Homo sapiens: one gene and its partner. The protein of the gene in region 1 purifies or fractionates together with the protein of each later gene. This does not show direct contact. Each region holds a gene or a part of one and is shown on either strand. Other genes may lie near its edges. The genes, in order: FRMPD2 and PKN2.

What was found.
Region 2: the proteins of FRMPD2 (region 1) and PKN2 purify together in Homo sapiens (affinity purification with mass spectrometry; 3 studies listed by BioGRID and IntAct, with this or other methods). This does not show direct contact.

Annotation. Positions count from the first base shown.
Region 1 is NC_000010.11:48,261,260-48,276,912, reverse strand, and holds the start of FRMPD2 (FERM and PDZ domain-containing protein 2), read left to right. Parts: upstream 1-2,216; 5' UTR 2,217-2,345; coding exon 2,346-2,370; intron 2,371-15,653.
Region 2 is NC_000001.11:88,824,428-88,840,080, reverse strand, and holds the end of PKN2 (serine/threonine-protein kinase N2), read right to left. Parts: intron 11,601-15,653; coding exon 11,458-11,600; intron 7,338-11,457; coding exon 7,230-7,337; intron 7,005-7,229; coding exon 6,924-7,004; intron 6,837-6,923; coding exon 6,633-6,836; 3' UTR 3,826-6,632; downstream 1-3,825. UniProt on the Homo sapiens protein: PKC-related serine/threonine-protein kinase and Rho/Rac effector protein that participates in specific signal transduction responses in the cell.

The DNA of each region.
Region 1 (15,653 bases):
ATAACAAAATTATATAGGGAATGACACAGAGATAACTCAGAGAGAAACTATTAGCTTTGATAACTTGAAAAACAAAAACACATTGATAAAATTTTTATGCAAAAAAATGGACTTAATGAAATGTTAGCAGAGCAACAATAGAAGGGGGTTACTGCTAGTATTTTTAACAGAAAAAGTGAAAGTGGTGGTGACTTTAAGCAGACCAGCATTTACCTGTTGGCAGATGACTTAGGTGTTGCTTTTTGTTCTGTTGTGAACGAGCCACATGACTGGAGAAGTCAACTTTCTTCTTCTGGGAGAAAGGTTGCGTGGTCAGCCTGAAAAAATTACTAAATAAAAATTACCTGGACACTTGCTGAAAATACAGATGCTCTGGCTCGGGCCCAGAGATTCAGGTTCAGCAGATTCAGGGTGGTGCCTGGGAATCTGCATTTTATCGTCTTCAAGGCTGAATCTGATGAGAAGACAAGTTTGGAAAAAACAGTAAAAGATTGTTGCAGATATTGTGAAATGTTTTGCTAGCTAGCAGGGAATGTCAATATAGATAGCTTTAAGCAGAAAAAAATGTAAAACATTGTGTTTTTTAGTTTTTTTCAAGTAATATAACATAAGGTTATAGGGGGAAAATACCAAAATGAACAATAATTTTCCTGACTAAATAATGAGCCAAAACTCTTTCCCCTAGCAACCACTATTAAGTTGCTTGTGATTCCTTCCAGAACCACAAGAATATGTCTACATAATATTCTAATATACTACAGTGTATAAAGAATATGTATACATAAATATACGTAAATATACCTGGTCTTTATGTACCTATTTGTAATAAAAGGAAACATACTAGGCTATTCCATACCTTTTGTCACTTAAAGAATTTTCTAGGCAATTGTTATATGCCAGCACACACAGATCTACTTCCTTCCTTTACACAGCTGCATAGCTGGTTTTCTACTGTGTGTGAACTACAATAATCACTGTTGATGGGCACTTCAGTGGCTTTCAGTTTTCTGCTACTACCAAAATACACTGCAAAGAGCATCCTTTCTCAGATGCTTTGGTGAACTTTTGCAAGAATGTCCATGGGGTTACTTCTTAGCAGCTGGGTTTACAAAGGATATGTACATTTACAAATTTGATGAATATTACCAAATTCCCTGCAGAGAAGTTGCACTTATCTGTAATCTCACTATTGGCATATGAGAGTACTCATTCTCCATGCCCTCACCAGCACTGAGTTTCATCAGATTTTTTTTTCGAGACAGAGTCTCGCTCTGTCACCCAGGCTGGAGTGCAGTGGCCCGATCTTGGCTCACTGCAAGCTCCGCCTCCCAGGTTCACGCCATTCTTCTGCCTCAGCCTCCGGAGTAGCTGGGACTACAGGCACCCGCCTCCAGGCCCAGCTAATTTTTTGTATTTTTAGTAGAGACGGGGTTTTGCCATGTTAGCCAGGATGGTCTCGATCTCCTGACCTCGTGATCTGCCCGCCTTGGCCTCCCAAAGTGCTGGGATTACAGGCATGAGCCACTGTGCCCGGCCTCAAATTTTAGTATTTTATTCTGTAGTCAGGCAAAAACTCATGTTTTCTTTTTAAATAAATACGTCTCAGTTTTGACACTGCTATTGATTTAAAGGGCTTGAGAGATCTGTTCTTTTGCCCCTTCTACTACAGAGCTATGATCTACTTCTTGCTGTTCCCCATCTCTGCTGGTTCCTTTCTGAATCCAAGCACCAGAAAGAGTAAGAATTCCTTTCCCCCTTTCTCTAACCACATTTTTCTTGCTTTCTCACAGACAGATCCAGGTTATCATTTCCTCCTGCTGCTTTCACATGGTTCCCTGTCCTGTTGGTTGCAGGTCCAATGTCTGACACTATGAAAGGGCATGGAGGACTCTTGAGTTGATGACACTAAGCCTCTGCTCTGGGGCTGCCCCCAGTTCCTTGCAGAGCTCTTTCTTTTGATTGGGCCAGGAGATAAAGAGACATCAGCGTAAAAGCCCTGCTGAGCAGCAATCCCATTGCCTTCAGTGGCACCTAATCCACTTGAGCTCTTCCTGGCTCTCTCACGGGTCACTGGCTTTGAGGACGCAGGCTGCTGGGGTGGCAGTGCCTGCTAACAGGCCAGAGACTGCGCAGGACCCAGGGAATGAGAGTGGTGGCAGGAAAGGGAAGGGGCCTTGTTGACTCACTCGCTGGGCAGCAAGTGCTTAGTGACAAGCAGTAAACAAAGACAGCGGCAACAGTGCTGGTGGCAGGGAGCTCCGCGGACAGACTTGCAAGAGACCCCTGCTCCTTGTTGGAAAGTTGTCCCATGATGAAGGCCTAGACCTGGTCACGGAGACTTTTGGATGCAGCCTTTAACGAAGGACGCAGGTATTCCTTGGCATCATTCAGTTTTCTCCTATAAATCTGGTCAGGGAAAGGGCAAACTTCTTACTGGGTCTAGGTATCCGGAATAAGAAGAACACAGCTGGGCAAGGACCTGTGTCAGTGCCCTTTGTGGTATTATTTGGAGTATTATTTGTTCCAGGCCATTGGCTAAGCCTGATAGACATTGTATTTGTTTTTTAGCAATAAAGAATGGGCTCAGAAGAGAAAACATGGACTTTAGAATCAGACCACCCCTTGTTTGAATCACTGCTTTGCTATTCAGCATCTGTGCAAATTCAAATGACTCTTTTAACTTTCCTAAGACTCGTTTTTCTTACCTGTAAAATGGGGATAATAATGCCCCATGCGTTACGATGTTGCTGAGGATTCATGGGGTGACACGCGTAAGGCACTTAGAACATACTTGGAGCATTTGAGTAGCCCAGTAAATCATGGCTGTCACTATCTTTCAGAAGCAAGTGTTTTGGTTATTGCTTAAAGAGTATCAGTGGTTTAAAGTAAGAAGACTCAGGGTATGCCTAGCTGACTTCCAGAAAACAATGGAAAAGAAATGATTCACCTGGCTTTATTTGTATGCTTAAAGGAAAGAAAAAACTCAGTTGAGGTTTTCAACAGTGTAAACAACTTTTTTTTTTTTTTAAAGCAACAATTGAGTTCAGAGATGAGTCGTGTCTATTTCTCCTGGCTAAATCCTGTGATTTGCTATAGGCTGTAGCTGAAACCAATTAAGTAGTTCATTAATTCAACGAGAACTTACTTGGTATCTCCTGGGGCCACATGCCAAATGCTGGGGATGTCTCCCCCAGCCCAGAGGATCTTCCAGGTTGTAGGACAGTGGGGGTCGGGGGGCAGAATGCTGGACCTGCATGAAAACTGGCGGTGATAGCAAGTGCCGAAATGGAGGTGGCACGGGCTCCTGGGAGAGGTGTTGCTTGAGCATGGCTTTAATGCTAAGCGAACACTAGCAGGAGTTGGGAGCAGGGGGATTGGAAAAGGCATCCCAAGCAGAGAAAAGCACATGCAAAGGCCCAGTGGCATGAATAAGTAAAGCATGCTCTGGGAACAGCAGGCAGTTTGGCCTAACTTTAGTAAAGTGGGAACAGGGGAATCTGATAAGAAAGGAGGCTGCAGAGGTGAACAGGGGAGAGCAAGGAAGGCCTTCTATGGCCCAGAGTTCACTCAGAAGGTCCCAGATAGGCACTGGTAGTTTTAATGAAGGATGTGTCGTGTCTGCATTTAATATTAAGAAGATTAATCTAGTAGCAATATGGGTGTGGGATTGGAGAGGATGAAACCTGGAATGATGACAGATGGCCTAACCTAAGAAAACAACAGTGGAATGTAGAGAAGGGGAGGTCTCCAAGCTGGTGCTGCCAGCACTGTGAGCAAAAACAAATACATATGCATCTAATAAGTTCATTATAAATTTTACTGATATGAAGGATGTATATTGCACAATTTACAAGTAATAAAATATAAAATACTCTTTATTACAAATTCTATATAGCCATTTGATTCTCACAGCATGCATTTGTTGATTTTTGCTGAACTCTTATACCCTTGGTCAGCCTGTTTGCAATTGACCACTGAATGTAGTTCCAATATGAATGTTGGTTGATATTTTTGTTTACATTGACAAGTAAGAAGAAAGTGAAACAATGAAGATGATTGTCTTAACTTCACTCATCTGTCAATGACATGAGTGACTGCTGGATCAGATCATAGTTTTTGAATTTGGAAGAGTGTTTTCCCAATTTTTGTGTTATTCACAATGTAACAACTATGGACGCGACACACTTTTAGGTTTAATCTGCATGAACATTTTCTCCATCACTTTCTTAGTTTTCTTAGGGAATGAAAAAACAGCAAACCAAGCCCTAATTTGTAGCTTTTGCCAATTTTTGTGGTATAAATACTACCACCATGGCCAATCACAAGCTCCCAATGTGATATCGCTGAACACAAAGGTGGAAGGGCTGTGCACCAGCACACCATTACACAGTATTTCCATCATAGAAATGTATTTCATTTAAATAAGTTCCAAAGCACAGACAACAGTAAAATGCAGTAAAATAATTTGGAAATGGTGAGTTTCAACATATTGTTAATATAACTTATTTAATTGGAGATTTTTATAATACTTTTTGGTAATGGCTGTGTTTAATGACCAGCTTACAAAATTTCTGGAAATTTAACAATTGGCTCTCACAGGCCAGTAGGAGCCTTCTTCAGCATATCACAGAATCCAAGAAAGGTTTAAGGAGCAGAATACAGAGTGGTGAGAAAATGACTCATGGGTGCAAATGAAGGGGGCACGAAGGAAGAATTAGGAAGAATACTTCCTTCTCTCTGGGGATGAAGCTGTCACTCACCAAAATGTTGGACTTATTAAAAAGAACACCATGAATAGATGACTATGAATTCAACTGCTCAGGAATAGCAAGGGCTGCGGTGTGCAGCCCAGGACAATGCTACCTGCAGCTCCATTAGTGAAGTCATTTCTGGTCTGAAACCCCAGTTTTGCTGGCTTGTCTCTAGCCTATTCCCTGCCCTCTCCATATACTCAGGATTCATAATATGAATAGCTAGGATTTATTGAAAAACTGCCATATGCCAGACACAATAACTCATGGTATAAACGAGTAAAGAGAGGAAGTAACTTGCCCACGGTGAGGTGGGATCAATCCAGCTCTGACCTCGGAGCCTGCTCTTCCAGCCACTATGCTTTTCTATTCTCATTCCCCTCCTGAATTGTATTCACCCTGAGATATCAGTGTTTTTAGCTGCTTTCCTGGCAGAAGTCTGCTTTCGAGGCTGATTCCTATTCCTCAGGCTTCCTTTTACTGGTCGCTGGCAGCTCTACTGTTAACTGCCCTCCCTTTTTTTTTCTTGCCTTGGCTGTAAGCCTCCTTATTCCTGTATTTGCTTGAGCTATCATAGCCCAACATTGTTGGAAATAGAGTAGGTAGTGAAGGGAGGCAGGAAGGAGATGTGTAGGATGGTGCACAGGAACCAGTTCCAGGAGGGCTGGTGCCAGGCAGGAGGCAGATCAAGGCTGAGCTGTCAGAACTCACTCTTCAATAGATTCAAGATGGGTTAAACAGTGTCTGGCTGGAGAGTAAATGTATTAGACATTTTAAAAAAGTGCCATCTAGGAATTTCTTTTGTTTCTTCTATCAGTATCATTTTTGTATGATGCCAGTCCAGAGTGCAGGCAGCATCTGAAGTATTCACTTGTTAATTTACTGAGTCATTCAGCCAGTGGGGGAAGAAGGAGCTCCAGATGCGAGTGTCCCCACAGAGCCTGCAGAAGGACAGGAGGCAAGGGGGTTGTGGTGCGTCTAAGGCTGGAAAAAGGCCATGGGGGAAAGAGGAAGCTGCTAGAGATCAGTCCAAAGCGGTGGGCCTGAGGTCCTGCAAATCTTGCTCAGGATCTGAGCTGATCCTTTGGAGAATAGAAAGTGGCTGAAAGTTTTCACGAGGTGTGACATGGTCAGATTTGTGTTTTAGGAAGAGGACTCTGCAAGACAGAGAATGGATCAGGGCAGGGGCAAGGTATGGTTGTAGGAAACCATTTTGTAGAATTTACATTTCAGTGGTCATTCAGGGGAGGGTGCTGGTGGCTTAGACCAGGTCAGTGGTGGTGGGGTTGGAGAGAAACAGGCGGATTTTAGAGAGATTTTGGAGATGGTGATTAACGGGCTGGGAAGTTGAGGGATGGGAAGGAGACAAAAATGTCGTCTGAATGTTTGGCTTGAGGGGTTAGGTGGTGGGAATGCCATTTGCTGTATTCAAATAAGAGAGGTTGAAAGAGGAGGAGGTGGGGGGAAGGTGAATTCAGCTCTCTACATCTAAGGGGGTTGTCTAAAGGACATCCTGGGATCACCAAGCAGGAGCTCAAGAAACGGGTCTGAGCTTAAGACATGGCTGTGGAGGGGATGGACTGATGGTTGGTAACTTTGGAGCATGTAGAGTGATTTGAAGAGGGAGCCAGGGCAGAGAGAAACCCAAAGACCACTGACATTTGGCATTGCCTTTATTCATTGTTACAAATAATACCATGGCAAATATCTTTGAATATACATCTTTGTCAATTATGTTCTTGGCATCAATTCCCAGAAGAGGAAGACCCTGATGGCAGGAATGGACATCCCTTGGCTTTTGATACAGATTGCCAAACTGCTTTACAAATCAGCTGTCGCAAATTGGCCACACATAAGTAAGGTCTCTGAGAGGAACAGTGTCATTGCCACCTCATGGGCACTGAGCGCTCATCATCGAAGCCCACTTGAGGGATGAAAATGGGCCTCGAGACCACGTCCACTAGCAGCTCCTTGGATTATAGGCAGGAGTGGACAGTTTTTCCATATTGTTTAATAAGGAATCACCGTTTCTTTTATGACTTTTCTTAGTCTCACTTTCTCAATTACCTACTGCTGTTGGGCCCATAAGATTTTTCTCTCTGATTCTTTGCACAGAAATAGTCACTTTCGGTTTGACCTTCATCCCTTATCCCAGCTGGCTGTATAGCTCTTTGTAGATATCACTGTGGGAAGCAACTTCCTGACTCAGGGCCTGAGGAGGGGTATGTGGTAAATAAAGCCCAGGAGAAGAGCTTGAGACCAGAGTCCTCTCCCTGAAACCACTCGGAGTGGGATTCTGGACAAGCCTTCACCCTCACACCTTGGCTGTCTCCCATTTCCCATCTGTGCTACAGCAGGTCTCCTGGGTCTGTCAAGTGTGAGTTAAGGACCCCCTCTTCACTAACCAGTATTTTTAATGGTCTGCTCTGGATGGATTAATTTGACTGAATGAAGCTGCTTCACTTCTAGAGGAAAATTTTTAAACAAAGCATTCACCCAGTGGGGTTTGTGACAGGGCAAGCCACTTCTCAACCTGCATTAGGCTGGGAACCCACGGACGGCCTGGCCCTGCCTGAGTCCCATCAGCCAGAGGTTTATCCCTCAATCATCACTGCAGGAGGAGAGAAGGCTATGCTCTCCGTGAAGGGGGAACTCTCAGGCCTGTTCAGCTTCTGCATCCCTCTGAAGGCTGCATTTCAGTGACGCTGGCCACCCTTGTACTAGGTACCACCTGCCCCACCAGCAACATCCACATGCAACACGCCTCTGTGCATCCTATTTCCTATATGCTTAGAAATGTTCCCTAGGAGGCAGAGAATTGGCATTGCTGGGACTTGGCAAATACATGTTCTCAATTTTGATAGATGGCTCTGAAAAATCTATACCAATTTAATTCCCATGTTAATGGGTGTTATGAGAGGGCCTGGTCTGCAGCCCCCACCTTGCTAACATCAAATATTTAAATTTTTGACCCTCTTGATAAATTCTCATTGCTGTTTTGTTTTCCCTGATTTACTAGAAACACAGCAAATCTTTTCAAATATTTATTGAGTAGTTGTATTTTTTCACCTGTTTATTTCTTAACTTTTAAATTAAAGAGTTGTTTTTTTCTAATTGATGAGTAAATAGTAACCCTTTTGCCATTATATATATTTTCTCCTAATCTGTTGCATATTTTTGTTTACATTTAATTTTCATATATGGTCAGATAAAAAGTTGCAAAGAAGTTGCAAAGAGCACAGAGAAGTCCCTATACTCTTCCTCCAGTGTCCCCCAGTGATTATATCTTACCTAACTACAGCACAATGGCAAACCCAGACATTTGACATTGGTACAATATGTGTGTAAAGTACTATGCCATTGTAATACTTGTGTAGATTTATGTAACCACTACCACAATCAAGATACAAAACTATTCTATCGCCACAAAGATCTCCCCCAGCTCCCATTCTACTCCCTACCACCCTGCTTCTACTATCTCTGAGATCAGTCTCACAAGCTGTGACCTTTTGAGACTGGTTTTTCTCATTCAGCCTAATGCCCTTGAGATCTAATCAAGCTGTTGCACGTATCAATAGTTTGCTCTTTATTGCTGAGTAGTATTCCATGGTATGAATATACCACAATTTGTTTAACCATTCACCAAATGAAAGACATTTTGACTTAACAGTTTTTGGCTATCACAAATAAAGCTGCTATTACAAATAAAACACACACGTTCACATGCAGCTTTGTGTGTGGATATTCATTTTTTTTCCTCTGGGATAAGTGCACAGAAGCACAATTGCTCAGTTGTATAGTAAGAGTATGTTTAGTTTTTCTCTTTTTTAAAAAGAAACTGACAAACTCTTTTCTGAAGTGGCTGTACCACTTACATTCCCACCATCAACTTAGAAGAGATCCAGTTTCTCTGTATCCTCATAAGCATTTGGTATTGTCACTTTATTTTTTTTTCCTGTCATATAGGTGGGGAGGGATATCTCATTATAGACTTCATTTGCCTTCCCCTTATGGCCAGTGATGTTGAACATCTTGTCATGTGCTTATCTGCGATGTGTGTATCTTCAGTGAAATGTCTTTCCATGCCATTTGCTCATTTTTCTAATTGGATTGTTTGCTTTCTGCTGTTAAGTTTTGAAACTTCTTTGTAGACATCCTACATGTGAGTACTCCATATTAAGCATGGCACCTAAACCTACTTTCTGCCTCTATGGATTTGTTTATTCTGGATATTTCATATAAATGGAATTACACAATGTGTAGGCTTTTACATCTGGCTTCTTTCACTTTAGCATAACGTGTTCAAGGTTCATGCATGCTGTAGAATGTATCAGTACTTGATTTCTTTTTATGGTTGAGTAATGTTCCATTGTATGGATGGACCACATTGTGTTTATCCATTCATCCCTTGATCGACACTGAGTTGTTTCCACTTTTTGGTTATAAATAATGTTGCTATGAACATTCACATATATTATTTGTAGAAATATCTATTTGAGTCCTTTGCCCATTTTGAAATTGGATTGTTGGTGTTTTTGTTAAGGAATTGTAGGAGTTCTTCATGTATTCCAGTTACTAGACCCTTATCAGATTGATGATTTGCCAATATTTAATATTTTCTGCCATTCCGTGGATTGTCTTTTCAGTTTCTTGATAATGCCCTTTGATACAGAAATGTCTTTTGATGTCTGTTGTCCGATTGGGTCATTTCTCTTGTTCTCTTCTCAATCCGTGGATTCTCTACTCAGTCTTCTCCATTCTGCTGTTGAGCCCACCCATAGTGTTTCTAATGTTGGTTATTGTATTTTTCAGTTCTAAAATTTCCATTTGGTTCTTTATATTTCTTTGTTGAGCCTTTCTATGTCTTTGTTTTTATTGTGCTTGTCATTGCTCACGAAAATCCTGGTCAGATAATTCTGACATCTGAATCATCTTGGTACTGGCTTCTGTTGTCTTTTTTACTCAAGTTGAGATTTTCCTGGTTTTTGATATGATGAGCAATAGCGACTGAATCCAAGATGTTTGGGTACTATGATATGAGACTCTGGACCTTACTTAGAGCTTCATTTTTAGCAGATGTTCCCTGATACTGTATGGACAGAAGGGCTCTGCTTCATTACTTCCGGGTAAAAATGGAAGTCTAGACCCCCCACTCAGTCTCTCTTGATAACCTTGAGGGCATCTTGTTGTGACTGTTCTGGCTCCCCTCTAGTCCTCTGCTGACACCACCCTTGCTAGGAGGGTCGGGGACACCTTATTACTGCTCCTCATGCAACACGTCAGGGGATGCCTTGTTACCACTGCATGGTGGTAAAAGTACTGACCCTCTCTTACACCTTCCCTGGCACCACCCCCGTGGGGAGGCCAAGGGGCATCTTGTTATCACCAGAGGAAAGTGGAAGTCTAGGGTGTGACGCAAGTCACCACTAGGTGGGAATGAGAGTTTCAGCTCCCACTTGGCCTTCTCTGAACTGACTGTGTGGAAGAAATGACTGTGCCTCATTGTAGCTGGATGAGTGTAATGTCTGGGCTCTCCCTAGGCCCTTGCTGACTATTTGTTGAAAAGACTATCTCAAGACTAATTGCCTTTGCTCCTTTGTCAAAGATCAGTTAAATGTATATGTATTGGTCTATTTTTTGACTCTATTTTGTCCCTTTAATCTATTCGTGTATTCTTTCACCAACATCACATTGTCTTGATTAATATACCCTATAATAACTCTTTTTTCTCTTTTTTAAATTGAAGAATGCATATTAGAAGTTTTTATTTTTTATTTTACTTTTTAAACTTTTATTTTAGGTACAGGGGTACATGTGCAGGCTTGTTATATGGGAAATCTCGTGTCACCAGGGTTTGTTGTACAGATTATATTATAAACCTGGTACTAAGCCTAGGACACAATAGTTATTTTTTGTGCTCCTCTCCCTTCTCTCAGTCTTCATCCTCAAGTAGGACCCAGTGTCTGTTGTTTCCCACTTTGTGTCCATATGTTCTCATCATTTAGCTCCCATTTATAAGTGAGAACATGCAGTATTTGATTTTCTGTTCCTGTGTTAGTTTGCTAAGGATAATGGTCTCCTGCTCCAACCATGTTCCTGAAAGGGGCATTATCTCATTCTTTTTTGTGGCTGCATAATATTCCATGGTGTATATATACTACATTTTCTTTATCCAGTCTACCATTGATGGACATTTAGATTGATCCCATGTCTTTGCCACTGTGAATACTGCTGCAATGAATATACACATGCGTATTTCTTTATGATACGACGATTTATATTTCTTTGGGTATATACCCAGTAGTGGGATTGCTGGGTCAAATGGTAGTTTTGGTTTTGGCTCTTTGAGGAATTTCTACACTGATTTCCACAATGGTTGAACTAATTTACACTCCCACCAACAATGTATTAATATTCCCTTTTCTCTGCAACCTCACCAGCATCTGTTATTTTTTCTTTTTATTAATAGCCATTCTGACCAGTGTGAGATGGTATCTCATTGTGGTTTTGATTTGCATGTCTCTAATGATCAGTGATATTGAACTTTTCTTCATATGCTTATTGGTTGCATGTATGTCTTCTTTTGAAAAGTGTCTGTTCATATCCTTTGCCCACTTTTTAATGGGGTTGTTTGTTTTTTTCTTATGAATTTCCTTAAGTTTCTTATAAATGCTGGATATTAGACCTTTGCCAGATGCATATTTTACAAATATTTTCCCCTACTCTGTAGGTTGTCTGTTTACTGTACTAATAGTTTATTTTGCTGTGCAGAAGCTCTTTAGTTTAATTAGATTCCATTTTTCAAGTTTTGCTTTTGTTGCAATTGCTTTTGACATCATCGTAATAAAATCTTTGCCAGTGCCTGTGTCCAGAATGGTATTGCCTAGGTTTTGTCTTCCAGAGTTTTTATAGTTCTGGGTCTTACATTTAAGTTTTTAATCCATTTTGAGTTTATTTTTATATAATTGTTTAAGGAAGGAGTTTTGTTTTAATCTTCTGCATATGGCTAGCCATTATCCCAGCACCATTTACTGAATAAGAAGTCCTTTCCTCATTGCTTGTTTTTGTCAGCTTTGTTGAAGATCAGATAGTTGTAGGTGTGTGGCCTTATTTCTGGGCTGTCTATTCTGTTCCATTGGTTTATGTGTCTGTTTTTGTACCAGTACCAAGCTGTTTTGGTTACTGTAGCCCAGTAGTGTAGTTTAAAGTTGGGTAGCTTGATGCTTCCTGCTTTGTTCTTTTTGTATAGGATTGCCTTGGTATAGTAACTCTTGAAGTTGGATAGTTGGATCAGTCCTACAACTTTGTTTCTCTTCGTCAGTATTGTGTTGTCTGTTCTAGGTGACTTGTTTTCCCTTTTCATTTAAACTTTAGAATTAGTTGTTGATATTCACAAAATAAATTTCTGGGATTAAATCTACAGACCGAGTTGAGAATAAATGACATTTTAACAATATTGAGTCTTCTCTCAGTGAACATAGAATACTCTTCCTTTATTTAGATTTTAAAAATATTTAAAACAAATATTTTTATTTCTTTCATCAGAATATTGTAGTTTTCCTTATAGGGATCTTATACATATTTTGTTAGGTTTATTTCTACATACTTCAAAATTTTTTGGTGTTAATATAATAATTGATATTGTGTTTATAATTTCACATTTCAGTTGTCATTGCTGATGTTAATTAAAGTCAAAACAGTTGAGTTTTGTGTATTAGCCTTTTGTCCTGCAATGTTTCTATAATCACTTATTAGTTTTAGGAGGTTTTTTGTTCATTATTTGAGATTTCATACATGGACAATCATATCATCTCGGAACAGAGATAACTTTATTTCTTTTTTTCTAATTTATATACCTTTTATTTCCTTTTCTTGTCTGATTACATTAGCTAGGACTTCCAATGGTGAGAGGGGACATCTTTGTATTTTTCCTGATCTTAGCAGGAATACATCTAGTTTCACACCCTTAGGTCATGTGTTGGCCGTAGATTTTTTTTTTTACATATTTTAAAAAGATTAAGTCGAAGAAGTTTCTTTCTATTCCTGGTTAACAGAGAGTTTTTAATCATGATTTGCTGTTGGATTTTGTTAAATGCTTTTTCTGTATTAATAAATTTGATTATATAATTTTTCTCTTTAGTCCATGAAAGTGGTGGGTTACATTAATAAATTTTCACACCAGCCTTGCATACCTGAATTAAATTTCACTTGGTCATGGTGTATGATTATATTTATACATTGTTGGATTTGATTTGCTAATATTTTGAAGAGTTTTGCATCCTTGTTCATGAAAACTATTGATCTGTAGTTTTACTTTCTTGCAAGATTTTTATCTGGTTTTGGTATTGGGACAATTATGGCCTCATAGAATGAATTAAGAAATGTTCCCTCTGCTTCTATTTTCTGGAAGAGATTGCAGATAATTAGCGTCATCTTTTCCTTAAATGTTTGGTAGACTTTAACAGTGAAATCCTTTGGGCCTGGTGCTTTATGTTTTGGAAGGCCATTAATTATTAATTCAATTTATGTAATACGTATAGGCATACTTAGATGATCTATTTCTCTTTGTATGAGTTTTGATAGATTTTCACTTTCAAGGAATTGGTCCGTTTCATCTAAGTCATTACATTTGTGGGCATATTATCCTTTTTAATATCCATGGGATCAGTAGTGATGGCCCTTATTTCATTTGTGATTTTAGTTATTTACATCTTCTCTCTTTTTTTTTCTCTCTTGGTTACTTGGCTATGGGTTTATCAGTTTTGTTGTTGTTTTCAAATAATCTGCTTTTAGTTTTGTTGATTTTCTCTATTGTTTTTCTGTTTTCAATTTTATTGATTTCTGTTCTAATTTGTTATTATTTGCTTTCTTTTATTCAGGTTCATGCTGTTATTTTTTCTGTAGTTTACTAAAGGTGGAAGGTTAGATTATTAATTTTAGATCTTTCTTCTATTCTAATATATGCATTTAATGTTAGAAGTCTCTGTATAAGTACTTCCTTCATTGCATCTCACAAATTTTGGTAACTTGTATTTTCATTTTTGTTTAGTTAAAAATATTTTTTATTTTATCTTGAGATTTCCTTTTTGACCCATTTGCTGTTTAGAAGTGTGTTGTTTAATCTCCAAATAGTTGAGGATATTCTGGCTATCCTTCTGTTATTGATTTGCAGTTTGGTTCTACTGACAGAACCAAATCTCCATGAGAGAAATCATACTTTGTATGATTTCTGTACTTTTAAACTTGTAATCTCAGCTACTTGGGAGGCTGAGGCACGAGAATTGCTTGAACCCAGGAGGTGGAGGTTACTAGTGAGCCAAGATTGCACCACTGTACTCCAGGCTGGGCAACAGGGCAAGAACCTGTCTCAAAAAATAAATACATAAATAAACATAAATAAATAAATCAATAAAGTTTATGGCCCAAAATGTGATATATCTTGGTGAGTGTTCCATGTGAAACTGCAAAGAATATGCATTCTGTTGTTGTTGGATAAAATAGCCTACAGCCATCAACTAGATCCAGTTCTTTGGCAGTGTGTCTAGTTTAACTACGTCTTTACTGATTTTCTGTCTGCTGGATCTGTTAATCCCTGATAGAGGGGTGCTGAAGTCTCCAGGTATAATAGTAGATTGTTTATTCCTCCTTGCAGTTCTACCAGTTTTTATGTCATGTATTCTGATGCTCTGTTGTTAAGTGCATATGCATCAGAGATTGTTATGTCTTCTTGGAATATTGACCTCTATCATTATGTAATACCCCTTTGTATTCCTGATAATTTTCTCTATTCTGAAGTCTGCTTTGTCTGAAGTTAAGATGGTTACTCCAGCTTTCTTTTAATTTGTGTTAGCATAGTATATCTGTCTACATCCTTTTAGTTTTCTTAAAATTAATCTTTTTATTCTTCCCTTTACTTTTAACCTATTTGTGCCTTCATATTTAAAGGGGATTTCTTCTAGACAACATAACTGGGTTTTATTTTTTAATCTACTCTGTCAGTTTCTGTCTTTTAACTGGCATACTTAGACCTTTATATTTAAAGTGATTATTGATGTTGTTAGATTAATAGCCACCATATTTATAACTGTTTTCTATTTGTTGCAATTGGTTTTTGTTTCTTTTTAAGATCTTCCCGTGTTTTTCTGCCTTCTCTAGTTGTAATTGAGCATTTTATATTATTTTGGCATGTAAGTTATACTTCTTTTAAAAAATATTTCTAGTAGTTGCTCTAGAGTTTGCAGTATACATTTACAACAAATTTAAATCCACTTTCAAATAGCTCATGTGTAGTACAGGTACATATTACAGAGTAATACCCGTTTCTCCCTTCCAGCCTTTATAACTGACTGGCATTTATTTTACTTATTTATAAGGCATAATCACCCAAGATGTTGTTGCTATTATAATTTGAAAAACAGTTATCTGTTAGATCAATTAAGAATAAGGGAAATAAATGGCTTAAGATCTGAGTTTCTCTTCTGTATCATTTTCCTTCTCTCTGAAGAACTTTTAAAATTTCTTGCAAGGCAAGCCTACTGGTGACCAATATACTCAGAAGTTTTGTTTGTCTGAGAAAGTCTTATTTCTTTTCACTTTGAATGTTAACTTTGCAGTATACAGAGTTCTAGATTGGTAGTTTTTTTATTTTTACACTTTAAATATTACGTCCTACGATCTTTTTACTTGAACAGTTTGTGAAGAGAAGCCCATTGTAATTCTTATCCTTTTTCTGCTATATATGTAAGTTACATTTCTCTCTCTCTCACTTTTTTTTGCTGGGGAATATTAATTTACCATTATTTTTGCTTTTTTAACTTTTAAGTTTAGGGTTACATGTGTTTTTTTTATTTATCTTGCTTGATGCTTTCCAAGCTTCCTAGATCTGTGGTTTGGTGTCTGTTA
Region 2 (15,653 bases), on another chromosome or scaffold:
GAGATGAAGTCTCGCTTTGTCACCCAGACTAGAGTGCAGTGGTATGATCTCAGCTCTTTACAACCTCTGCCTCCCAGGTTCAAGTGATTCTCCTGCCTCAGCCTCCCCAGTAGCTGGGATTACAGGCATACACCACCGTGCCCAGCTAATTTTTTTAGTAGAAACAAGGTTTCGCCATGTTGGTCAGGCTAGTCTTGAACTCCTGACCTCAAGCCATCCACCCGCCTTGGCCTCCCAAAGTGTTGGGATTACAGGCATGAGCCACCGTGCCTGGCCACACTAACCTTTTTTTGTGCAGGTGGAGTTTCGCTCTTGTTGCCCAGGCTGGAGTGCCAACAGCATAATCTCGGCTCATTGCAACCTCCGCCTCCCAGGTTCAAGTGATTCTCCTGCTTCAGTCTCCTGAGTAGCTAGGATTAAAGGCATGCGTCACCATGCCTGGCCAATTTTTTATTTTTAGTAGAGACAGGGTTTCTCCATATTGATCAGGCTGGTCTCGAACTCCTGACCTCAGGTGATCTGCCCGCCTCAGCCTCCCAAAGTGCTGGGATTACAGGTTTCAGCCACTGTGCCCTGCCCGCCGTAACCTTTTAATGAATACACAGGGCTTGGCACAGTGGCTCACACCTGCAATCTCAGCACTTTGGGAGGTTAAGGTGGGAGGATCACTTGAGCCCAGGAGTTCAAGACCAGTTGTGGCACGTCTGTAGTCGCAGCTACTCAGGAGGCTGAGGTGGAAGAATCACTTGAGCCTGGCAAGTCAAGGCTGCAGTGAGCTCTAATTGCACCATTGCACTCCAGCCTGGGTGACCCTGTCTCAAGAAAAAAAAGCCAGCATCGAAAATGGAGACTGAAAGCCTGCCATTGTTTGTTGTTGCTGTTAACAGATGATCCAGGTATTCTGGTGATGCTACTTGTGCCGCATGGTTATCCTGAACACGTTTTTTCACTGTATTGATGGTATGTTGAATTTTTTACTGTTAAGTATTTATGTGTAAATGAACACAAAACAATGATTGCTTATTGACAGCGCATAAATTCAAAGTCAGGAACGACAATGATGTTAAACAACCACAAACTGTCTACAAGAGTGGCTGTGACAATGACACCTTTGCCTTCTGAAGGTTCAATGTACACAAAGTTTGTTTCATATAGAAAATTATTTAAAATATTTTATAAAGTTACCTTCAGGCTATGTGTACAGGTGGATATGAAACAGAAACTCTCTCTCCTCTTGTTGACATTTAGGTTTTCATGGTGTGTCTAAAATCTACTTTGATATTAGGTGAAGCTACCAGAGCTTTAGCTTGAGTGGATTTTGCATCACATATTTTTCCTCATATTTTTACTTTCAGCTTCTCCATATACTTCTATTTCAGATGTATCTTTTTGCAAACATCATACCACCAGATTTCTTTTTAAAATCTAATCTTATAAATCCTGCTTTTAGCTAGTGAGTTTGCTCCATTTACATTAATTGTGCTTTGGATTAATTTCTACCATCTTGTCTTTTGGTTTAGAATTTATAGTCACTATAGTGAATAGCCTTGGCATTTCACAGTGAACCTAAAATCTAAAGTTAATCAATACCTTAACATTCCAACAATAAAAAGACTACACAATACTGTAGCTCTGGTGTTCACTATCCTGACTTTCCTGCTACTGCTATCTAGAATTTGTGCTTAGAAAAAACAAAAAAATTCAAAATCCAGTAATTCCTTCTTTTATCTCTTTGGTTTATTTAGATTTACCTAGGTGTTTGCCATTTTACTTATCACAAACCTTTTTTTATCTTGTGTTACCCTTCTGGGATCATTTTTTTACTTCAAGCACATTATTCAGAACGTCCATTAAAGCAGCAAGCATTCCCCTTTTAAAACATATTATATGCCCTAATTCTTACGAAAATTATTTTATTTTTATGTAATTCTAGGTTAACCTTTTTTTCCCCAACACTCTGAAGGTAATATTCCACTACGTGCATTGTTGCAATTGAGAGGTGAGCTGGTGTCTTTCCTTTATAGACATTTAGTCCCTTTTCTCTGGATAGTTTCAAAATGCTGTCTTTGGTGATTTGCCATTTCACAATGGTTCTACGCATACATTTATATTTATCCTGTTTGGGAAATATTGTACTGCTTGGATATTTTTCATCTCCGAGAAACTTGCAGCCATTATGTCTTTAAATATTGCCTCTCATTCTTTCCTCGAGTCTCCATTCCATCTTCCGTATCTCTTAATCTCCCTTTTATATTTCCCATCTTCATTTGGGATTGACTTTTCAGTTTCCAATCTTCAGTTTTCTTCAACTGTCTAATCTGCTGTTTAATCTTTCCACTGAATTTCATATTAGAACAATTACATTTTTCATTTTTGGATTTTAAAAATGTTTGTTAAAATGTTCATTTTACATGTTTATACTGATAGCTTTAGGTATATATATGTATATATACTTTATATATAGCTATTCTATAACTTGTATCTGGTAATTCTTTTTTTTTTAAGTTGGGGACTTGCTCTGTCACCCAGGCTAAATACAATGCAGTGGCATAACAGCTCACTGTAGCCTTGACCTCCTGGGCTCAAGCAATCCTCTGACTTCAGCCTCCAAAGTAGCTGGGACTACAGGTGCACACCACCATACCTGACTAATTTTTATATGTTTTTTTTTTTTTTTTTTTTTTTTTTTGTAGAGAGGCAGTCCCGCTGTGTTACCCAGGCTAGTCTCAAACTCCTAACCTCAAGCAATCCTCCTGCCTTGGCCTCCCAAAGTGTTGGAATTACAGGCATGAGTCATTGTGCCTGGCTGATAATTCTAATGTACGAAATCTCTGACAGGGATATCTAAATTTAATATTTCTGTTGGTTCTTATTCAAGGTAACTTGCTGTCTCTCGCATGTGGTTAGGGATTTCTGACAGTGAATTACTTGATCTTAATCTGTGGAATCTGATAGTCCCAACCTGGAGAAGCTTCCATCCAGAGAATATTTCCTTCCACTGTCAGGGAAAGAGTGACATGCAAACTAAAATATGAACTCGTCTACAGGATTTAAGCACAGAAGATAAGTCCTGATGCTATTGCAAGGTTTGCTATCCTCAAAATTGTGTTGCTAGAGAAATCTATCCTTGGTAACCCCACTTCTCTTGGGTGCCTGCATTTTCAAAACCTGCTCCTTGCCATTGTGACTCCTATCTTTTCCAACTTCCTGCTACTCTGCCATACTCTGTAGACTCAGCTTCCAGTTCTCTCAATATTCCTACTTTTGTGCTTGAGCACTCCCACTCTAACTCTTAGGTGCTGAAGCCCTAACTTGTCCAGACTCTGCTCAAGTTTGTTTGCTTGTTTTGGGGTGAAGGGTTGCCAGAGACCACTCTTACCTTTATTGAGATCATCAATACCTCAAATTACGTATCTTATTGACGGTCTTCCACTAATTTTATATGTATATGTATACATATTATTTTTAATAACTTTAAAGCCTCTACCCATCATACTAATGTATAAAGCCAGTATCTCAGAAAAACCCTAGACCTCAAAAGATGGCTGGAAGGTAAATAAGAATTCTAAATTTAAATTAAGGTTATGATCTGTGGATTAGTATTTGCTTCTTTGGATTTTTCATACTTACTCCTTCAGTGGCTTTGGGAATACTGGCAGTACTTGCAAAAATCTTGTTAGACTTGAATCTGTACAGCAGATTTACCAAGTCAATATATGATTGCAATTTCCATTATGTCCTCAATTTGTGTTACAGGGAGAGCATGGATCATTTTATATTTCTAAAATATTCCATTTGTAATTTTTAAGTAAGATTACTATAAAATACTAGTATTCTGTTTTATTCATTTGCCTTTTTGAGAAGCCAGGTCCTAAATTAAAATAAGCTAACCTCAAACAAGAGAAAAGTACATACAATACTGGTGCTTGCATCTTAATTAAAACAGGCTGTTCTTCATTCATCAACATTTTGTTGCTTTAAAAAAAAAAACTTCCTATTCTCAGTATCTATACACAGTAAGCAGTCCATAAATATGCTTCAAATAAAAGATGCTACTGACCTTACAGGAGCAGAATACAAACTTTTCCCATTATTCCCAATGAAGTGGACAGTTTGCTCTGAATGTTCATGGTTTTAAGCCTTCACTAGGACAAAAAGTACTTGCAAGAATGTTTATTAAAGTTAATTAGTCTTTGAGATTTTGAACACAGAAAAGTTAAAGTATATTTTAATCATTAGGAAGTTTCTAAAAGGAAAGAATACTTAAAACCAAAGTTACAAATTTCAATCTATATAGACTTTAATTTGTGCATTTGTGATAATTTATGACTGCAAAAAACACTTGTTTTCTTAGAATGACATAGTGAAAGGCACATTTCATTTGAATGCATAGTGTACCATTCTAAAATATCCTAATTTCTTTACAAAGTGCTTGAGCAGTCACATACACATACAGTAATAGCAAAATATATTTACACTCTATAAAGCTTAAAATTTTAAATCTGACTAAAATATATATATATTTTAAACTACAAAAAATTAGTGCTTTCTTCAGCTTAATTGTGTAAATAGACCCTGCCTTCTAATTTTTTTAGTGATTGACTTCAATTAAAAAAAAATTCTGTACACTGTGTAGTTACGAAATGCTGTCAGTTTTTAATGCTAAGAGCCTATTTTAGACATTACTTTCTTTGCTATTTGAGAACCAAAAAAGTGAGCAGACTGTACCTCAAAAGTATTTAGTGTTTTATTTTAATGTTGTATTAACACAGTTTAAATTAAAGCCAGACAATTAAGCTAAGTTCCTCTATTGTCCTTTGCCGAGGAAATTAACTGGCATTTTAAAATAACTTTAAACCACATATTGTTCCCCCATTCTATAAGATTTTCTCCCAAAGGATCTTGGGTAATAAACAATTTGGAAGGTAATATAAATGATCTCTGGACAATTTTAATTGTTCTCAGAGTACAATGAAAAGATGCTAAAACATCCCAGCAAATATTTATAAATGTTTTTAGCTCAACTCTCCATAAATCAGTGTGCTTTTTCATGTTTCTCATAAGATTTACACCTGAACAATTTTTAAGAGATGAGCTCACTGTAATTAAATAGTTAATTCAGTATGGTTACTTAACAGCTTGCTATTCCTGAGGTATAATGACCCTAACATGCTAAGCACAGGATCAAAGATGCTATTACTAAACTAAGAAAAAACAATAAAGTCATAGATTAGGAGAAAAAAATATAAAATCAAACCAAACCAAAACAAACAAAAAACTACAGGCAAGTGGAAAGTCATGGTTTGTAAAAAGACAACCCTAAAAGAGTATAAAAAGCCACAGACGGATCCTTTGAAGAGTTGTATAAAATATTTCATCAAATTATTTTTGAGACTTTTGAGGTACAGCTTTAGTGTTATAATTCATTTTTTAATAAAATATAGACTGTTTTATCAAAAATATTTATACATTCTGTTACAATATATTGCTTTTGCCCTCAATAACTGCCAATATAAAATCTGGATCCAGTGGCCTAAAATGTACAAATGCACTTAATGTAAATGCTGGAGTTTGAGGTGTCTGCTTGGCCACTGTACAAAAGTGATGAAGTGGTAAAATTAAATAATAAGCCTACAACATAGAATACATTAAAACTTGCACATATACATGTTCACAGCATGTATACAATGATAATCCCTACGGTTTAACCAAGTTATGGTTCCCTTCTACAGCAGACACAAAACCAAGGTGAACTAGGTTGGCAGATGTAGAGTGAATACCAAAAAAAGGGTAATCGGTTCACTGATTCTGAAAGATATGACTGAACATACTGAGCATCTAGACTTTGGGAATGCATACAGGTAACAATATCTTGGTTCGGCTGATTAAAAGTCCTCATTCTTAACATCTTAAGTAAATGCTGATCCTGTTTGTTTCAGCACTGTTTAATAAACAAAAAAAATTGTTTGGCAAGCAGCTCTGTTGGAAAGCTATAAGCCTGTTACATGATTGATAAAAAAGGCAATATAAAGTTTTCTCCTAATAAATATAGAACATTTATAAAATAAGACATCAATTCATTCTGTTTTTTTAAAAAAAATCAAGCCCCGAGTTGTATACAAACTGCCACGGTTTTTGATATTACAGTAATGTCTTTTTTTTTAAAAAAAGGAGCATTTGCCTTATTCAAACAGAATCATACTTTGTGTGAACAGTAATAGCATTCCAAGCCCTTTTTTCTTTTTATAAAACATAGTTAAGTGATTAACTTTCCTTCCACTTAAGGCGGGCATATGGCAAAGCTAGGGACTATAAAAAAGTGGTTTTTTTCTTTCTTTTTAAAAATAGACTATTGATCCAAAAGTATTCGTGATGGATTTTCATGGCCGATGTTCACTCAACTTAAACTCCATGAAACTGTTTCCAGTGCTCATATTTACGCTGAAGTACAATGAGGAGCCACTTTTGAAGAAGTATTAGAATGGTACTTTTAAACAAATCTTCACGTGTTTCAATAAAAACAACAACAACAAAAAACTCAGAAGCTATTGGTGGCACAGAGAGCAAATGAAGGGTTGCTATTTTTAAGAGGTCTTCTTGTGAGTCAGCTTGGTTTCGCAGTGTCTAGCAACTTAACACCAATCAGCAATGTAGTCAAAATCTCTGAACATTTCCTGCTCCTCTTCCGAAAGTATCCTTGGTTCTCGAGGTGGAGTCAGAATAGGTGCTTCTGAGGTAAATTCATCATCAAAATTACTAACATCTTCTCGTCCTCTTATGGTAGGTATAAATGGTGGCTTTACTTTTTTGTCCATCAGAGCGCTCCAATCAATTAGCTGGATCATAAAATAAAAAATGACTAGTTTAGTTTGTTAAATCTAATCGCTCTAGTTTCATAAAAAATTTTAAATAGTCACACTTACCCGGAAAAATGGGTGCTTTTTTACATCCTCTGCATCTTTCTCGCTAGCCCCAAGGCGCCGTTCAGGATTTCTTCTTAACAGCTAGCATAATGTAAAATAAAAAAGTTAAAATAAAACCAATAGAATAAAATTCACTGATAAGGATTATTACTTTAAAAAACTTAGATATATTTTGTCTTTTTTTGTCTAAGCCATGCAACATTTATGAACTGAAAAACAGCTTTTAAAGTTCTACTGGGAAATTTTCTTTAGTATAAAAAATTAAAGTAGTCTTTAAAAAATTCTTATCCTTATTTTAATTCTTACCCTTCTCATTATAGAAATGGCTTCTGTAGATAAGAACCTTGGATACCTTACTTCATCATTTACAATACTGTCAAAAACTTCCTCTTCATCATCACCAGGAAAGGGAGACTAGAAGAAATACCTTTGAGTAAGTTAAAGCAAGTTTTAAGGCAGTAAAATCTTATCACCCATTCAAAGTACAACCAAGATCCAGGCAGTGAAAAAGAAAAAACAGACAAAACAACAACAACAACAACAACAACAATAAACCCATGCCTACCAAAACAACAACAAAAGAACTATAAGAAGTGACAACAGATATGTATCTATTACAGAGGGAATACACCATATACTCTTTCTGAAATCTTTAAATTTTATAGACCCTTATAAAAAACTTGTCTATCTCATATATGATATGACTTTTCATTTAATTTCATTCCACTCCATTCCATTTTATTTCATTCACTCAATCACCTATTTGGCCAGACAGTCAATTTTTAGTGTCTAACAGACAGTAGGGAATATTTAGATAATAGATAAATCCTGAAGAACCTCAATCTTGTGGAAAAACAGAAGAAAATGGATAAGGTTAATATGGTAATAAATGTTATAATAAAGGAAGGCAATCTGCGGAAATACATCAGATATAAATGTGCTTTGGATTTTAAAGTCAACAGTAAATTAATGGTGGTAAAACACAATCATGGATTAGCAAGCATAATGACTGTATTAAGAAGCAGCTGCCAACAAAATTAGACTGAAAGGAACCCAAAAAGCACACATTGCCAGGCATTTTTAATGTTCTAAACACAAAAAGTTTTAGGGCATTTCCATAAGCTCAGTATTAAAATCATTTTTCATAATGACCCTGAGACATAAAAAAGTAGTTACATTATATTCAGTATGACAATTTGATTCACAAAGAGAGAAACTTTCAACTATGCTAAAAACGTGTCTATCAAATGTGACTGCCTGCCTCAGAATTTCAGATGGCTTAAAAATCACTCAGTCATTTTTTAAATCAGGAAACAAATGTCTAAATATCATTTAATTCCTTAAAATCACTGAAATGAATTAGTATCTTGAACCTTATTTTCTCACTGGCTATTGAAGAAATATAGGCTTACTTAGCCTCGTTAGATTTGATTTGGCTGCTTGCTTCCAATTAAGTTTTAAAGAATAATAAGCAGAAAGCAATATCCAGGGAAAGTGAGCAATCTTTAAGAATCTGTGAAAATAAATTCAGAATCCAACTTCTTAAGGCTGAGCTTCTAATCTTGCTCACAGCTAAGAAAATTTCAAAGCTTACAGTTACCAAAACCTTAGTTTGTTCATTCACTCACTCAAAATACATAAATAAAATATACTACGTGGGACAATGTAGTACACTCAAAATACATAAATCAAATGTACTACATGGACAATCTAATTTCTTCTGGGGACTGAAACAGTAAGTCAGAAGAAAATTTTATTTTACTAGGATTCTCAATGGGAATTTCAATGGATAATACAAAGACAGCACTTTGGTCTTCTGCTTGAACAATTTTTACTTGAAAACTCATTCTACAAGTCTGAACAGCAAAGAAATATCTATACATTTGTTAAAATATGTAGTATCTTTTTTCTGCAAATAGATTGTAAGCAAACAGGGCTAACAACTGAAAGCTAACAAATGTGTTTTCAGCACATTTAAAGGAAACCAATAGTCTGTTCAGATGTCAACACTGACAGTATCTAAAACCATGTCCAGCATTCTGTTCAATCTCTCTGGTATCTTCACTCCCATCTGAGACAGGAAAAAGGGGACTTGCGATGTTTGTTTATTCCTGGAGTCTTTCCAGTAATCAAAACTAGTAGAAGTATACAAATCTGAACATGTATAATATATCCGGTGAGTTTACAATTATTTGTAATAATAGAGAAATCTGACATAAACTTTAGCCACACCTTACTTTCATCATAGTTAAAAAGGAGTTATCACTAGCATTTCACTAATGCTATAAAATTATGAAGTAGACTGATGAGTTTTAAGTTTAGTTCTTTTCCCAGCTACCCTCTTGTGGAGATACTAAAGAGAAATTGCAAGAAACAACTGTGAAGAAATAGCCAGATCCACTGTCTTTTATCTTCTAGGTAATTAAGAGCTCAATCAATTAGCTCTTTTAAAAAACATGAAACAGGAGCTTCCTTGTTTTCTGCCAAACCCTCCAGTGGCTTTATAATAGGAGGGAGTAGATTCAACTGGATTAATTCTACAGTATTTTGTAATAAACTCATATTTTGCACATGTCATCTCTAATATGGAGAGTAAATTTTAAGCAAGCACATAATTGAATCTCATAAATCTCATACTTACTTGAATACTACATGAAACAAAACCAAAAAAACCCTCCAAAATGTTACTGTTAAAATAAAGGAAGGGGGTGGGGAGGAGTTCAAGTATGCCAGAGCTTACAGCAGATTAACTATTTTATGAGAACTTCTGGCACTCTCAGAAAGTAAAAGCCACTGTGGACTGGAGCTAAAATAAATCTTTCCAACCTAAACACTGCACAACAGCTTTTCTAAATAGAGGTGAAAAATTCAGATCTGGACCACTAGTCTTAAGAACAGAAACAAGGCTGGATGAATTGAAGATCCTGTCCTGGAGCAGCAAAGCATAATGCTTTAGATATGCTCTGGAGCCAGAGTGACAAGGTTAAAATTCCAGCTCCACCATATGAGAGCTGTGTGACTTTAAGCAAGTCATTAATCTCTTTGTGTCTCTATTTACACCTCCGAAAATGGGCAGAAGATCAGTACTGAGCTTATTAAAGGCTGTTGCAAAATTAAATGAACTAATATTTAAGGCATACAGTACAGTGCTTAGCACATGATAAATTTTAATTAGCCATACTTCTCCTCCTTTTCCAAGGAATCCACTTCAAATTGACATACCAAAAGGGGTTATCCATCCGGCGAAACTAAAACCATTTGTTTGGGGTAAGTGCCAATAAATGACAAGCATAGAACAAAACTTTAGAAATTTCTGATATTCAATTTGATAATTTGTTCATTCAGCACTAACTTCTTCAAACTTACAAGTGTACAAGGGAGGTTGCTGGCATGGGGAAACTGCAGAATAATGAACCAATCCCTTAAAATAATTTTTCTTGCATCTCCAGTTCAAGTCCCTTCAAGTAATCTTCAATTACTTATTAAAAGATTTACTCTTTCCCAATTTCATCCCAATTCAACATTTCTAACAATTTATAACATAATAAATTATTAGTCTCCTATTATTGCCTTAACATAACTCACTGTTTCCTAATAGTAATAATTTCTATGTACAACTCAATTATCCTCAGAAATTTAAGTTAATCTACAGAAAACAGTAGGAAAAAATGCGAATTTTTTCAACTCTACCATTTTTTAAGGTAACACTTCTTTCATTTTTTTAAAATTATATTTTATTTAACAATCTAGGAAGTTCACAGCCATCAGCAGTTCTATAGCAACTTCAGGTGCAACTGGGAATTCAGGAATCTCGGTGGAGCTGTTGGTGTAGCGAATACTTTTGATAGCACATGTGAAGGTATCTCTCTCAAATTGACCTCATTGGTTTCATTCTCAGCAAATTGACCTGGGCCACTCAACATGGCTTTTATCGTGCTGATGTTAATGTACGTTCTGTTTTTACAATAAATTCATGGCCATCGGATGATATCAATTTGACATACATGGCATCAGGGCCTTCACAGCTACCATAGGTTTTCTCCTCTCTCCATCCATTTTGTTCTTACGAAATTCTACTTTGCTTCCCCAGGAACTTCAGTAGTTTCCCGGTGAAGCAAGGATGCAGAGTGTGTTGCTCAGACGGAAGTCTGGAGGAAGTCGAAGGTAACATTTATTTCTGACCAATCTATAGTGGGCTTTTCTTTACAGGTACAGAGTACATTCCTTTTATTAGTCTTTCTGTTATTCCATTCCCTATAAAATGACTATGTCTTAAAATCAGAAAACATAATAAAAGTACAATACTGAAATACAAGGAACTATTTTCAAAGCACTGATAGTGCATTCCACAAACCACATAAAAATCTTTATTGAAGGTATTACAGAAAGATAGCTGACTACTAGTATACTATAAATATTTATAAAACTTAAATTCCACTCATACTGAAGACAGTATTAGGTGGTTTTATAAATGACATGCTTTATTATTTCAATCATCCTTCCTCTGTTCTCTTACCTATTTCACACTGCTTACCTCACCAACAAGCATTTCATATATAAGCACGCCAAGGCCCCACCAATCTACAGCCCTTGTATAAGAAGTTTCTGTTAATACTTCTGGGGCAAGAAATTCAGGAGTGCCACAAAATGTGCTTGTTCTATCTCCATATCCCATTCCTGGAAAAGATAAAATGTAAACATTTGTTAGCAAAGAAAACAAATCTAGCATAAAAAAAAAATCAAAGCTATCTTTGGGAGGCAAAATTAAAGTTGCACATTTGTGCATGGTGAACAAATTCAGACATATCTAAGACATTTCAAGAAAACAGTAAGGACTGGTATAGCAAAAACTGCAATAGCAACTATACTGTCTAATTAATGGGTAAATAGAAATAAGATATCCATGTTTCTTTTCAGTTACTTTTTCTTCTTGTCATTACAAGGGAGCTAAGAAATTATAACAAAATGAACTGATTGTGAAGTTCCATTATCTTTCCAATTCAATCTTAAATAAGTTTATTTACTTCATTATAAAATCAACATTCTAAAAAAAATAAGTTTCAAAAATACCAAAAAGCAAACCCTTGGATAATCAGAAGCTGACCAAATGTGTCATATAATACAGAGAGATAGGGCCGTGTGCAGTGGCTCATGCTTGTAATCACGGCACTTTGGGAGGCCGAGGCGGGTGGATCACCTGAGGTCAGGAGTTCAAGACCAGCCTGGCCAACATGATGAAACCCGTCTCTACAAAAAAAACAAAAACAAAAATTAGCCGGGCATGGTGGCTCCCGCCTGTAATCTCAGCTACTCGGGAGGTTGAGGCAGGAGAACTGCTTGAACTTGGGAGACGGAGGCTGCAGTGAGCTGAGATTGTGTCATTGCACTCCAGCCTGGGTGACAAGAGCAAAACTCTGTCTCAAAAAACAAACAAACAAAAAACATATATATATCTCAATATATATTATATATAGAGAGAGAGAGAGGAGGGGACGGGAGGGGAGGGGAGAAGAGGGGAGGGAAGGGAAGGGAAGGGAAGGGAAGGGGAGGGAAGGGAGAGTACAGGTTGAACATCCCTAATCCAAAAATCCAAAATCTAAAATGCTTCAAAATCTGAAACTTTTTGGGCACCAACATGATGCCATAGAGAATTCCGCAAGTACTTAAGATTAGTTTCATGCACAAAATTATTAAAAATATTATATAAATTTACCTTCAGGCTATGTATAAGGTATATATGAAACATATATAAATTTTGTGTTTAGACTTGGGTCTTGGCCTCAAGATATGTCATTATTTATATATGCAAATATTCCAAAATCCAAATAAATCTGAAATTCAAAACATTTCTCATTCTAAGCATTTTGGATAAGGGATACTCAGCCTGTATTAACATTTTGGCTAACTAGTTTTTAAATATATGTTCCTCATAATTTATTAATATGTTAATCAAATATATAGTCTACATATTGAAGATATTATCTCTATGTATTCCAAAGTGTTAAAAACTTGTCATAAGTGTCATCTTTTTAAGAATTTTAAAGAAAAGCTCTCAATCCTAAATTAAGAATAATTAGGTATGCATATATAGTGACTATAAAATAGAAATGAATGTGTGTCTATGAACCAAGACCTGAAGGGCACAATTAGATACATTAGCACACTGGAGTGGAGAAATTTTTTTTTGGCAAAATTTCTTTAACACTATCATAATGATTTTTATTTTCTTCAATAAAATATTATTTAAAAAAACAGTGATATAGTATTAATATCTATGTAAGTTCTGCACCAGCCTTTTAGTAACTTGGAGAAAACTAGGAAAAAGTTAATTAATGAAGAAATATAACTTATGTTTCTTGTAGACTGGTAAAACTCCATGGAAGTGGTTAATATCAGGCTCTAGATTAATAAATACCTGGTTTAAGTTCCAGTTCTGTCATTTGTTAACTGTGGGAGGTTGGGAAAGTTGTCTAACATCAAATTCTAGGTTTCTTCATCTGTATATGAGAGTTAATAATACCATCTACCAGTGTGGAATGATAAGACAAGGAAGACTCAGAAGGGTGAGGAGGTGGAAGGGGGGTGGATGATGAGAAATTACTTAATAGGTACAATGTATGTTATTTGGGTGACGAATATCCTAAAAGCCTTGATTTCACCACTATGCAATTTATGCATGTAACAAAATTGCACTTCTACCCTATAAATTTATATAAATAAAAATAAAATAAAAAATAAAATATTTCCTCCAAAAAAACTATCTACCTTCATACGATTGTTATAAATTACAGGAGATATGCATATGAAGCAAAATTCTTGGCACACGGTAAGCACTCAAAAGTTGTTAGCTATATAATCTACTAAACATGTTTTTATGATAATGCATTAATAAGTCTGGTTATTCAACACACATATTTTCTGCACCTTTTATGTTCTAGGCACCTGTGTCAAGTAGCGGGAACATAAAAACGAGAGTAAGACACAGTCTTTAAGGGGCTTACAGGAGACTGGAGGGAAATGGATATTTATTGATAATTTTATAACAACAAGGGAAGAGCAAGATAAGGTAGAATAGTGAAGAAGGGCTCCTAAAGCAGACTTGGGAGTTGGGGTAGTAAAAGGGAATCTCTGGTAACTTGCCTGTAGAGGTTACACTTGAGTTGAATGACAAGGATGAGCAGATGTTAGTCAGCAAATAGAGTTGGGATGGGTGACAGTGCTAGAGGGACACAGACTATAAGCAGTTCATTGTTGCTGCAGCAAAAAGTACTAAACAGAGAGCAGCAAGAGATGTGGCCAGAGAGGAAGGCAGGCAGATCAGTAACGGCACTGTATGTCACCTTATCCTAGCCACTGAAGAGTTTTCAGCAGGTATGTGCCATGGTCCGATCTGTATTTATATGGACTCCTTAAGCAATTCAGCAATTACATGGCAGGTTGATTTGGGATAGAAAAAGACTAGAAATAGGAACAATTAGGAGATTATTATACCTGTCTTGTCAAAACAAGATAATGGGTGAAAGGAGCTGACTGGAAATGATAGATTTCAGAAATATTCAGGAGGTTAAGTGGCAGTAGAATTTTGTGAATAACTACATACGGGAAGTAGAGAACAGGATAGAACGCAAGATAATTCCTTACTTTCAGATTGAAGGCTGAGGGGATTGTGATACCAACACCCAGACTACCGGCGGAAAATAAATGATTTTTGTTTGGGTAGTGTTTGAGGTGTCTCTTCACTATTCAGGCAGAGCTGTCTAGTAGACAGTTGAATATATATCTTTGGAATCCATAGGAAAGGAAATAATAGATTTGGGAGTCATTAGGATATAGCTGCTAGTCAAAAAATTGCAGTGAAGAGCAGCCGGCTAAGGAGAGATGCTGAGAAACAAAAGCATTTAGAGGAACAGTGTCCAATAAAAAGAAGCCCAGTCAAGAAAAAACTTACTTGATTCAGCAATTAGGTCAGTGGGTATGTGATGGGCATATATCTACAGAGTTCATTCATTTATTCATCCAACTACTTATTAATCAAACACTTACTGAATACTTAAGATGTACCATGCACTGTGTTATGCACTATGGAAACAAAGCTAAATAGCAAACAGAAGCCACCAGTGCAGAGGGAGATAGAGAATGTTAGTAACTAGTAAACAGAAAGAACTATGTCCATTTTTTTATAATTGGGGAAATAAGACTCAAAGAGGTTAAAACTAAGTTTTCCAAAGACAAACAGCAAATAGTGGCAAAGCCACGATTCAAACCTAGAACTGTTTAGTGCCTAAGCCCATGATCTTTATCCTTTCTTATGTTACCTCTGATTCAAATTTCCCCAATTTACTTATTTACTTTTGAATATACAAAAAACATACATGAGATACCTATCTCTATTTATTTTCTATTTTTAAATGTTTCAACTTTAAGAAGCTGGAAGGAAATTATCAGGCCTATGAAATTCACTGTGTACAGTCTCACCAGAATAAACGATTTTGGTGCTTAATCAATACTTCCTTAAAGTAGTGACAAAATTATTAATCACACAGAGAAGCTTACTATGATTTCTATACATCTAACCTTATTTGTATTCAGAGAACAAATTCTTAATGTGATAATTAGGTTATATAAGCAATGTTTTCATTGTATCTACAATGTCTTAATGAAGAATAAAGTTAAAAGTACAGTTTGTTTTCCATAGACAAACTTGAAAACTACTGATGCACAAAGAAACAG